Linked DNA regions of Homo sapiens: region 2 is linked to region 1. Evidence: fine-mapped expression QTL. A gene starts in region 1. The other region holds a variant in brackets. All regions are shown on one strand. Distances are from middle to middle.

The links. PIP is the estimated chance that this variant, and not a neighbour inherited with it, causes the effect.
Region 2: its variant is the best candidate, but not a certain one, in a credible set for the expression of EPAS1 in neutrophils (BLUEPRINT, PIP 0.54).

The regions. Positions count from the first base shown.
Region 1 is chr2:46,295,235-46,300,615 of GRCh38, forward strand. It overlaps EPAS1 (endothelial PAS domain protein 1), which reads left to right and starts at 2,173. Exons shown (of 16, transcript NM_001430.5): 1 at 2,173-2,703. The coding sequence starts at 2,678. RefSeq lists silencers at 1,627-2,206, 2,437-2,766.
Region 2 is chr2:46,210,006-46,215,386 of GRCh38, forward strand. No RefSeq gene overlaps it. Among named protein-coding and RNA genes, the nearest start is that of EPAS1, 85 kb to the right of the region's middle. The variant T/C (reference allele first, on the strand shown) is at 2,517.

The DNA of each region.
Region 1 (5,381 bases):
CTCACCCTCTGACACGCCCCAGTCTGTGCTGTTCCTCCCATGTGTCCATGTCTTCTTAGGTTGATGTGGTCTTGAGTGACCCCTCCTTGCCTTTCCTCTTTAAAAACAAGATCTAAAAGGCTATGTTCTCTATGGGTTGGAGGTGTTGCCTCGATCTGTCAAGCACAGTCCAGGACTCAGAGGCTGTTGTGGTGAACTACTGTAGGCACCTGGAAGCCACCAAGGTGCCCTTTTCCCGCACTCTAGTCCCAAGTGAGGGAAATAAGCCTATGGTTAAGGGAGAACTATCTACCAATTTGAACTCATTAAAATACATAAATGTGTCCACTAGAAATGGCTGGCTGGAGAAGCCCAGTACCAAATCACCCCGTTCCTGAAACCCACCAGCCCCATGAAATAGTTCGCTAGAGAGAGATTTGCAATCTTTGAATTCGTTGACTATCAACCTGTATAGGTGCTCCGTGCCCCGAGATCTGAGAAAATGACAAAATACGTCTACTTCCCGGCCGGGCACAGTGACTCACGCCTGTAATCCCAATACTTTGAGAGGCCAAGTTGGGCAGATCACTTGAGGTCAGGAGTTTGAGACCAGCCTGGCCAACATGGTAAAACTCCCGTCTCTACTAAAAATACAAAAATTAGCTGAGGGTGGTGGTGGGCGCCTTTAATTCCAGTTACTCCGGAGGCTGAGCCACAAGAATCGCGGGAAGCGGAGGTTGCAGTGAGTCGAGATGGGGCCACAGCACTCCAGCCTGGGCGACAGAGTGGGACTCAGTCTCAAAAAAAAAAAAAAAGTATTTCCCAATTCTTCGTCAGTTTTTGCCCTCTCCCCACTTCGCCTTCTCCAGGCTCCTGAAAAGTATCTCCCCCAACCCTTTCTGTGTACACGGGGAAAACACGTGTTCATTTTTATTATGGCGCTGAAACCTACCCTTCTCTTCAAATCGCTTCTGTAGATCGTTCTAGTATAAAATGTGGCAAGAGGCTAAAGGGAGAGATATAGACCAGTTCTTTGGCCCTCGCTTTCCAACTTCAAGTTACACCTGTGAAACTCATGGGTCCTTCCACAGCCTTCAAAAACTAAGGGCGTCCCCTGTCCTCTCCCCAGATGTCCCTTCCCCATCGCCGGTAGCGAGTGGGAGACAGCTCAGCGCGGGGCAGGGGAGCACTGGGCCCGGAGATGGAAGGCAGCGTCAAAAGCGCCGCTGGAAAATCCCTGAGCGCTAACCGTTGCCTGTGTGAGCCCTTAAATCTACAAATTTCCAACACCTGTAGCCTTTGGGTTTCCCAGGACTTCCATCGACCCTGGCGGCAGAGAGGGCAGGCCTGAGATGCAGTGACTTGAGGGCACATGGCCAACTCTTGTCACTCCAAGATCACACTGGGGAACCAGACTGACTTCTCCAATTCTGAACTCGCCCCGGCCTCGGGCGGCTCAAAGGGCCTCCTCTGCCGCATCCCCGCCAAAACCAAACCGCCTGGCACAAGCCGGTAAGCAACCACCCTGCTGGGAGAGGGAAGGAAGAGTAGGCGCAGCCCTAGATCAATTTCCTTGCACTGCTTCTCCCAGACGGTCAAGTCAGCTGCGTCCCACCGAAAAGGGCGCATCGCCCACGCCCGAAACGCAGCCGCTGGGGGCCGAGAAATTATCCCCACCTGGCCCGAGGGCCAGGGACGCAGGAGCGCAGCAGCGTGGAGGGGCTCCGCGCTGGCCCGGCGCTGCCCGCGGTCCTGCCCTCGTTCCAAGGGCACGGCGCCGGTACGAGGACACCGACGCTGTGGCGCAACTGCCGTCCCCCGCAGCAATCCCGGAGCCCGGCTCCCGGCCGCCCCTCGGCCCTGCGCAGGCTGCCTCTCCCCGACGCGGAGTCCCACCCCGCTACCCGCCGCCCAGACGACCTCATAAACAAGTCCTCGAAGTGCGGAGGCAGGAGGCGGGGCGCAGCGCGGGGGCAGGAGGCGGGCCAGGGTCAGGGCAGAGGCTGCGGCCGCGCGTCCCCATTGGCCGGGACGCAGTGAGCCGCCCGGAGCTCGGCGCGGGCGGGGCCTGCCGGCGCGTGCCCGCCCACACACCCGCGCCGGTGCCCGCCCCCCGCCCTCCGCGCCCGCCCCGTGCCCGCCCCAAGCCGGCCGACGGAGTTTTTAAAGTGGGCTGCCGGCCGCGGGAGCTTTACACTCGCGAGCGGACCGCCACACGGGTCCGGTGCCCGCTGCGCTTCCGCCCCAGCGCTCCTGAGGCGGCCGTACAATCCTCGGCAGTGTCCTGAGACTGTATGGTCAGCTCAGCCCGGCCTCCGACTCCTTCCGACTCCCAGCATTCGAGCCACTTTTTTTTTTCTTTGAAAACTCAGAAAAGTGACTCCTTTTCCAGGGAAAAAGGAACTTGGGTTCCCTTCTCTCCGTCCTCTTTTCGGGTCTGACAGCCTCCACCCACTCCTTCCCCGGACCCCGCCTCCGCGCGCAGGTTCCTCCCAGTCACCTTTCTCCACCCCCGCCCCCGCACCTAGCCCGCCGCGCGCCACCTTCCACCTGACTGCGCGGGGCGCTCGGGACCTGCGCGCACCTCGGACCTTCACCACCCGCCCGGGCCGCGGGGAGCGGACGAGGGCCACAGCCCCCCACCCGCCAGGGAGCCCAGGTGCTCGGCGTCTGAACGTCTCAAAGGGCCACAGCGACAATGACAGCTGACAAGGAGAAGAAAAGGTAAGCGGGCGTCCGGGCCGATCAGGGGGCCGGTCCGAGGCCAGGGCCGGGCTGCGCGGGGCAGGCGCGACCGAGAGTGGTTGGGAGAAGAGTGCTGAGAGGTCTTCGGAGCTCGAGGCTCGGTTTGGAGGGCTGTGAGGGGGAGAGCATGTGCCCGGTTTGGGGGCGCGGATCAGCAGCTTTGCAGTGGAGACTTCTGCGGCTCGGAGGAGTCGGGGATTTGCGCGCACGGCGAGGCCAGGAGGCCGAGGGAGATGGCCTGGAGGTCGGAGGTGCTTCCGCGGTGCCTTTGAAAATCTCCCAGCCGCCCCGCAGCAGATTACCGTGGCCACCGGCGCTTGGAAATGTTTGTGGGTGCATGTCCTCGACTTTCTCTGGTCTCTCATTTTGGGGCAGCATCCACGTCTCTATTTTTCTCTGGATTCGCGGAGTCCTTCCAAATGCGCTCCTGTGCCCGCGCCGCGGCCCAAGTGGGCAAAGGGGGGCGGGAGGCGGAGAGCGGCTCAGGGACACGATCCTACCGAGGAGCCAGGACCCTTCAGAGCGCCCCGCTGCCGGGCTCCAGACCCCACCGAAGGTTGGAGAACCCACTTCCTCGTGCCGCACCTTGACTCTGGGGAGAGTAGGTAGTGAGTGACCTGGATTGCCCTGCGGGGGCAGATGGTTCGGTGTGTAGGAAGCGGACGGCAACACTGGATGTCCCTGGCAGGTCCGGGTGTCTGTCTCCGAAGAGGACAGAGAAGGGCAGCCACGATCTGCCCGCCTGCCCTCGCGAGCCTCTCGGCACTGGGTGAGAGGCAACTCTGGCCATTTCTTGCTGCCCTCTCGCCCTCTCCCGGCCGCTCCCAGTCCAGCCGGGCCCGGCGCTACCCGAGCGAGGGTTCGAGCCCTCTGCGCGGCCGCGCAGAAGCAGGCAGGGCCTCAACTTCTGCAAATGTGTGCGGCTCGCCGCCTGTCCCCTTTCTCCTCCTGTCTCCACCCGTGCGGCCCCAGTGGCCTGGAGCTTCCAGCCCCGCGCTTGGCCGCGGCTTGGCGAGGCTATGCTGCGGGAAGCTGGAATCCAACGCGCGGCCGGCTGAACCGCCTGAGCCGCGGGAAACCAGCGGCGGAGCGGCGGTATAGAGGTGCGAGGATGAGGAGGACCGACTCGCTAAGGGAGGGAGGTGACTGGCCGGGAGGGCTCACTGCCGAGGTTGATTTGCTCTTGTTCCAACTTCCACTACGGGACTGGAGCCAGAAACCGTGTATCCTCCGGTCGAAAGCAGCGGTTCCCACCTCGGGGCACCGATAAGGATTTGATAAACGGGAGCGAATCGCGCCTGTCCTGGCTCGGCGCCCGGGCCCTTCACTGCGGGATCGCTAGGGGAGGGGATTGGGCCCTGCTCCCCTTTCCTGGCCGTAGTCCCCCCTTTCTCGTCACCGTCGCGCCCTCAGACCCAAGACAAGTGAGGGAGCCCTGAGACTGCAGCCGGCACATTCCCAGGGCCCTCGGAGCAGTCCTGGGGTTCCATGTCTTTTGAAGGCAGCAGAGCAAGGAAAAGACTCTTAAGATTCCAGTGCGTTTTGTAAAAACCAATCATAATGCTAATAATGACTGAACCATCGAAAAGCAAAGTTATAGACAGCGCCTGCAGACGCTTTCGGGTCCGGAGCCGGGGAGGGAACTTGTGTATTTTACAACTGCGATGCCTATCGGGAATGTGGCAATCGCCGAGGTGGGGCCTGACAGTAATCTTGACAAATGTGTGAAGTGTCAGCTCCTCCTGCGCTCCTTAGCGCCGGGTTTTGTGCAGTTTTGTACCGTATATACCGAGAAACTTGGGAGCAGGGGAAAAATGATTTCGACACACCCAGCTACAGTACCTGGTTCGTTAGCGGACTGTTGGAAAGAGAGAAGAAGCGGGAATGGGAGCGGGAAGAACGTTGCGTAATTAGACTCCCAATTATTGGCGAGAGCGGCCGCTTTAAGAACCACTGTGGGGACTGCCTGCGAAACGCCTTGGAGGCCGCTGTGTGAGCTGCGGCTCCGGGCTGGTGGCCACGCGAGGGTGTCCGCCCTCTTCGACCTGCCTGGATTTTTGTGCTGCAGAATGGCAGGGCAAACAGCGTGTCCTTCACCATCTAGAGCCCCTTAAGGGGTTGTCCAATTCCTATTGGGCTAATCAGTTTGAGACTCATTTACTTTTCGTGCCTGGGTCTGTTTGCTGGCTGCAGGCTTCTTTAGGGACCAAGATGTAATTAAAATATGTGAACCAATACATTGAAAGTTGGTGTTGTCATGTAAGTGACTGCTGTAGCTTTTCTGAGTGCCTCACAAGGGCGATGTGACAGTGAGGGGGCTCTCTGCTGATGATTCTGCCCACTAGTTCTTACATTTTGTGTTTCTTTGGTTTAGCAGAGCAGTTTCTTCCCCCAAATGCAATATGGGCAGAACATTTGGAATATTCGTTCTAACAATGGCCCGTCAAGAAGTGGGCAGATGATTTTGTCCCAGAATGTTCACACGTCGATAAATATGTTAATGTTTAATAATAAAGAGTTTGCTTTCTAAATGTTAGTTGGCTGGGTGTCCTTGATAGTACCAGTTTTGGTGGTAGTGGGCATTTGCGGTGACATCACAGATGTCAGAAACTGAAGCCTGGTGGGTGGGGGTACTGCACTTTCACTCACCTTTTTGT
Region 2 (5,381 bases), 85 kb before region 1:
TTATTGGTGTATAGAAATGCTACTGATTTTTGTACATTGATTTTGTGTCTGGAAACTTTATTGAAGTCATTTATCAGTTCCAGGAGCCTTTTGGCAAGGGTTTTCCAGGTATAGAATGATATCAGTGAAGAGAGATAGCTTGACTTATTTTCCTATTTGGATACCTTTCATTTGTTTCTCTTGTTTTATTGCTCTGGTAAGAACGTCCCATACTATGTTGAATAGGAGTGGTAAGAATGGACTTCCTTGTTTTGTTTCAGTGTTCAAGGGAAATGCTTTCAGATTTTGCTCATTTGGTATGATGTTGGCTGTGAGTTTGTCATAGATGGCTCTTATCATTTTGAGGTATGTTCCTTTAATACCTAGTTTCTTGGGGATTTTTATTATAAAAGGATGTTGGATTTTATTAAAAACTTTTTATGTGTCTATTGAGATGATCATATGGTTTTTGTTTTTAATTCTGCTTATGTGATGAATCACATTTATTACTTTGCATATGTTGAACAAACCTTGCATCCCAGGAATGAAGCCTACTTGACCATGGTGAATTAACTTTTCCGTATACTGTTGGATTCAGTTTACTAGTACTAAAATACTTATTTAAAGGGTTGATGTAGCTCAGAAAACAAACAGAAACAAGAAGTATTTGGGAGGGAAAAGAAAACCTCACAAACGCAACAAATACTATTCTTAATATCCTTAAGAGAGAAGACATTTTTCAATTTTAAAACAAAAAAAAAGTATGTTTTATTTAAAGAGAGTAAGGAATATTTGAAGAACAACAACAACAACAACAAGAATTTCAGAAATATTTTTTAATGGTAGTAGGAAAAAAGGCCCAATAGAATGTTTGGAAAATTCTTGACCATTATTTCTTTAAATATTGCTTCTTTTCCCATTCTAACTTTCCCTTCTTCTTCTAGGACTCCAATGATATGTATGTTGGATATTTGTTACTGTGTCTCATATCTCTTTTATGCTCCTTTCTGATTTTTTCCCATTTCTTTTCTTTCTGTGTTTCAGTTTAGATATTTTTTTCTTGTGTGTTTTTTTTTTGTTTTTTTTAATTGAGACAGAGTTTTGCTCTTGTTGCCCAGGCTGGAGTGCAGTGGTGCGGTCTCGGCTCACTGCAACCTCCGCCTCCTAGGTTCAAGTAACTCTTCTGCCTTAGCCTCCCAAGTAGCTGGGATTACAGGCATGTGCCACCACACCCAGCTAATTTTATATTTTTAGTAGAGACAGGGTTCCTCCATGTTGGTCAGGCTGGTCTCAAACTCCTGACCGCAGGTGATCCGCCTGCCTCAGCCTCCCAAAGTGCTGGGATTACAGGCATGAGCCACCTCACCTGGCCTAGATTTTTTTTTTTAATCTCTCCTTTAGTTCTCTAAATCTGTCTTCTCTGTGTCTAGTCTATTGTCCAACTTAAGAATAAAAAATATTCCTATTTTCTTAAGGTAAGAATACACTCTCTAGCAATAACCAATCACCAAAAGTGGTTTTATATTCATTATTCATGCTAATTGACTGATTATAACTTGTTTTAGTAACTATGCTTCTGAATGCCAGCAAATCAGCAACAACCTTCATTTGAGAATCTATGCTGCTATAGCTAATGATCAGCCATTTCCTGAATACATTTACTTCTGAAACTCTGCCAATCCTGAACTCTACCCTTCCTCAAACTCTATACAAGAACAGCTGTAAGCTCTACTCAGAGATAATGTGTCTTATAATAATAGCACAATACATTCAGCTTTTTATCATATAGTAAATGATGATCTCTTACTTTGACGATCTAATCCAATGAGTTCTTCTTTTTTTTTTTTTTTTTTAGAGTCTCATTCTGTCACTCTGTCACCCAGGCTGGAGTTCAGTGGCACAATCTCAGCTCACTGCAACTTCCACCTCTCAGATACAAGCGATTCTTCTGCCTCAGCCTCCTGAGTAGCTGGGTTCTTTATTTTGTTCCATTGGTCTAAGTGTCTGTTTTTATACCAGACCATGCTATTTTTGTTACCATGGTTCTGTAGTATAATTTGAAGTCAGGTAATGTGATTCCTTCAGTTTGGTTCTTTTTGCTCAGGATACCTTTGGCTATTCTGGGTCTTTTGTGATTCCATATAAATTTTAGTATTGTATTGTTCTATTTCTGTGAAAGATGTCATTGGTATTTTGATAGGGATTGCATTGGTTCTGTAGACTGCTTTGGATAGTATGGATATTCAAACAATATTAATTATTTCAATCTATGAACATGGAATTCTTTTTCACTTTTTGGTGTCCCCTTCAATTTCTTTCATCAGTGTTCTATAGTTTCCATTGTAGATTTCTTTTACTTCTTCAGTTAAGATAATTCCTAGGTATTTAATTTTATGTGAGGCTATTGTAAATGAGATTACTTTTTAAATTTATTTTTCACACCGTTCACTACTGGCATTTCAAAATGGTTTTTGTATGTTGATTTTGTACCTGCACCTTTACTGAATTTGTTTATCAGTTCTAGTAGTTTTCCTGCA[T/C]AGTCTTTAGGTTTTTCCAAATATAAGATTATGTCATCTGCCAACAAAGATAATTTGACTTCTTCCTTTCCAATTTGGATGTCCTTTCTTTTTTTTTTTTTTTTTTTTTTTTTTTTTTTTTTTTTTGTCTGATTGCTCTAGCTATGACTTCTAGTATTACGCTGAATAATAGTGGTAACAGTGGGAATCTTTGTTTCATTCCTGATCTTAGAGGAAAAGCTTTCAGTTTTTCCCCATTCAGTGTAATACTAGGTGTGGGTCTGTTGAATATGGCTTTTATTATGTTGAGGTATATTCCTTCTATCTCCATTTTTTGAGGGTTTTTTTCATGAAGCGATGTTGAATTTTATCAAATGCTTTTCAGCATCAATTGAAATGATTATATGGTTTTCATCTTCATTTTGTTGATATAATGTATCACATTGATTGATTTGCATATGTTGGACTATCCTGAATCTCAGGGATAAATCCCACTTGGTCATACTGAAAGATCTTTCTAATGTATTGTTGAATTTCATTTGCTAGTATTTTGTTGAAGATTTTTGCATCAATATTCATTAGAGATGTAGACCTGTGTGTGTTGTTTTTTTTTTTTTTTTAATGTGTCTTTGTCTGGTTTTTGTGTCAAGGTAAATACTGGCCTCATAGAATGAGTTTGAAACTATGTACTCCTCCTCTATTTTTGGAATAGTTTGAGTAGGATTGGTATTAATTCTCTTTAAATGTTTGGTAGAATTCAGCAGTGAAGCCATCAGGTCCTGGGCTTTTCTTTAGTTGGAAACTTTTTATTATGGTTTCAATCTTGTTACTAGTTATTGGTCTGTTCAGGTTTTGGACTTCTTTCCAGTTCAATCTTGGTAGGTTGTATGTATCTAGGAATTTGTCCGTTGATTATAGATTTCTAATTTATTGGCATATAGTTGCTCATATTAGCCACTAATGATCCTTTGAATTTCTGCAGTTTCAGTTGTAATGTCTCCTTTTTCATTTCTGATTTTCTTTATTTGAATCTTGTGTCTTTTATTCTTAGTCTGGGTAAAGATTTTTCACTTTTGCTTAACTTTTCAAACAATGAACTTTTTGTTTCATTGATCTTTTGTATCATTTCTTTCATTTCAATTTCATTTATTTCTGCTCTATTCTTTGTATTTCTTTTCTTCTTCTAATTTACATTTGGTTTGCTCTTGCTTTTCTAGTTATTTAAGAGGCATCATTAAATTGTTCACTTGAAGTTTTTTTCTCTTTTTTAATGTAGATACTAATAACTATAAACTTCCCTCTTAGTAGTGCTTTTGTTTTATCCCATGGATTTTGGTACACTGTGTTTTCATTATCATTTGCTTCAATAAATTTTTCAATTTCCTTCTTAATTCCTTTATTGACCCACTCAGGAGCATATTGTTTACTTTCTATGTATTAAAATCATTTCCAAAATTCCTCTTGTTGTTAATTTCTAGTTTTATTCCATTGTGGTCAGAGAAGATGCTTGATATAATTTTAGTTTTTTGAATGTTTTAAGACATGTTTTATGACCTAGCATATGGTCTATCCTTGAGAATGATCCACGAGCTGTGTAAAAGAATGTGTATTCTGCAACTCTTGGGTGAAATGTTCCATAACTATCTATTAGATCCATCTGGTCTATCGTGCAGATTAAGTCTGATGTTTCTTTGTTAATTTTCTGTCTGGAACATCTGTTCAGTGCTGAAAGTGGGGTGGTAAAGTCTCCAGCTATTACTGTATTGGGGCCTATCTCTCTCTAAATAATATTTATCTCTCTCTAATAATATTTCCTTTATCTGTCTGTGTGCTCCAGTGCTGGGTGCATATATTTATATTTAAAATTGTTATATTCTCTTGCTAAATTGACCTGTTTATTATTTTATAGTGACCTTATTTGTTTCTTCTTATAGTTTTTGTCTTGAAATTTATTTTTTTCTGATATAAGTATGGCAATTCTTGCTTTTTTTGGCTTCCATTAGCATGGAATATTTTTTTCCATCTCTTTATTTTCAGTCTATATGTGTCTTCATAGGTGAAGTGTGTTTCTTGTAGGCAACAGATCAATGGGTCTTATTTTTTCATCCATTCAGCCAGTCCATATCTTTTAATTGGAGAGTTTAGTCCATTGACAGTCAATATTATTATTGATAAGTAGGACTTCCTCCTCCCATTTTGTTATTTGTTTTCTGATTATTTTTTGGTCTTCTCATCCTTCTTTCTTTTCTCCCTGTCTTCCTCTAGGGAAGGTGATTTTATCTGGTAATATAATTTAGTTTCTTGCTTTTGTGTGTGTGTGTGTGTGTGTGTGTGTGTGTGTGTGTGTGTGTGTGTATCCATTGTATGATTTTTGGTTTGTGTTTACCATGAGACTTGCAAATACTATCTTATAACTCATTATTTTAACCTGATAACAACTTAACACTATTTGCATAAACAAACAAGCAAGCAAATAGAAACTCTCCTTAACTTTGTCCCCCTGCTTTTTAACTTTTTGTTGTTTCTATTTATATTTATTGTACTGTGTCTTGGAAAGTTGTTGTAAATATTTTTGATTGGTTAATCATTTAGTCTTTCTACTTAAGAGTAGTTTACACACCATAGTTACAATGTTATAATATTCTGTGTTTTTCTGTGTACTCACCAGTGAGTTTTATACCTCCAGGTGATTATTTATTGTTTATTAATGCCCTTTTCTTTCTGATTGAAGTACTCCCTTTAGCATTTCTTGTAGGACAGGCCTGGCATTGATGAAATCCCTCAGCTTTTGTTTGGGGAAGTCTTTATTTCTCCTTTATGTTTAAAGGATATTTTTGCTGGATATACTATTCTAGAGTAAAAGGTTTTTCTTTTTCCCTCTAACAC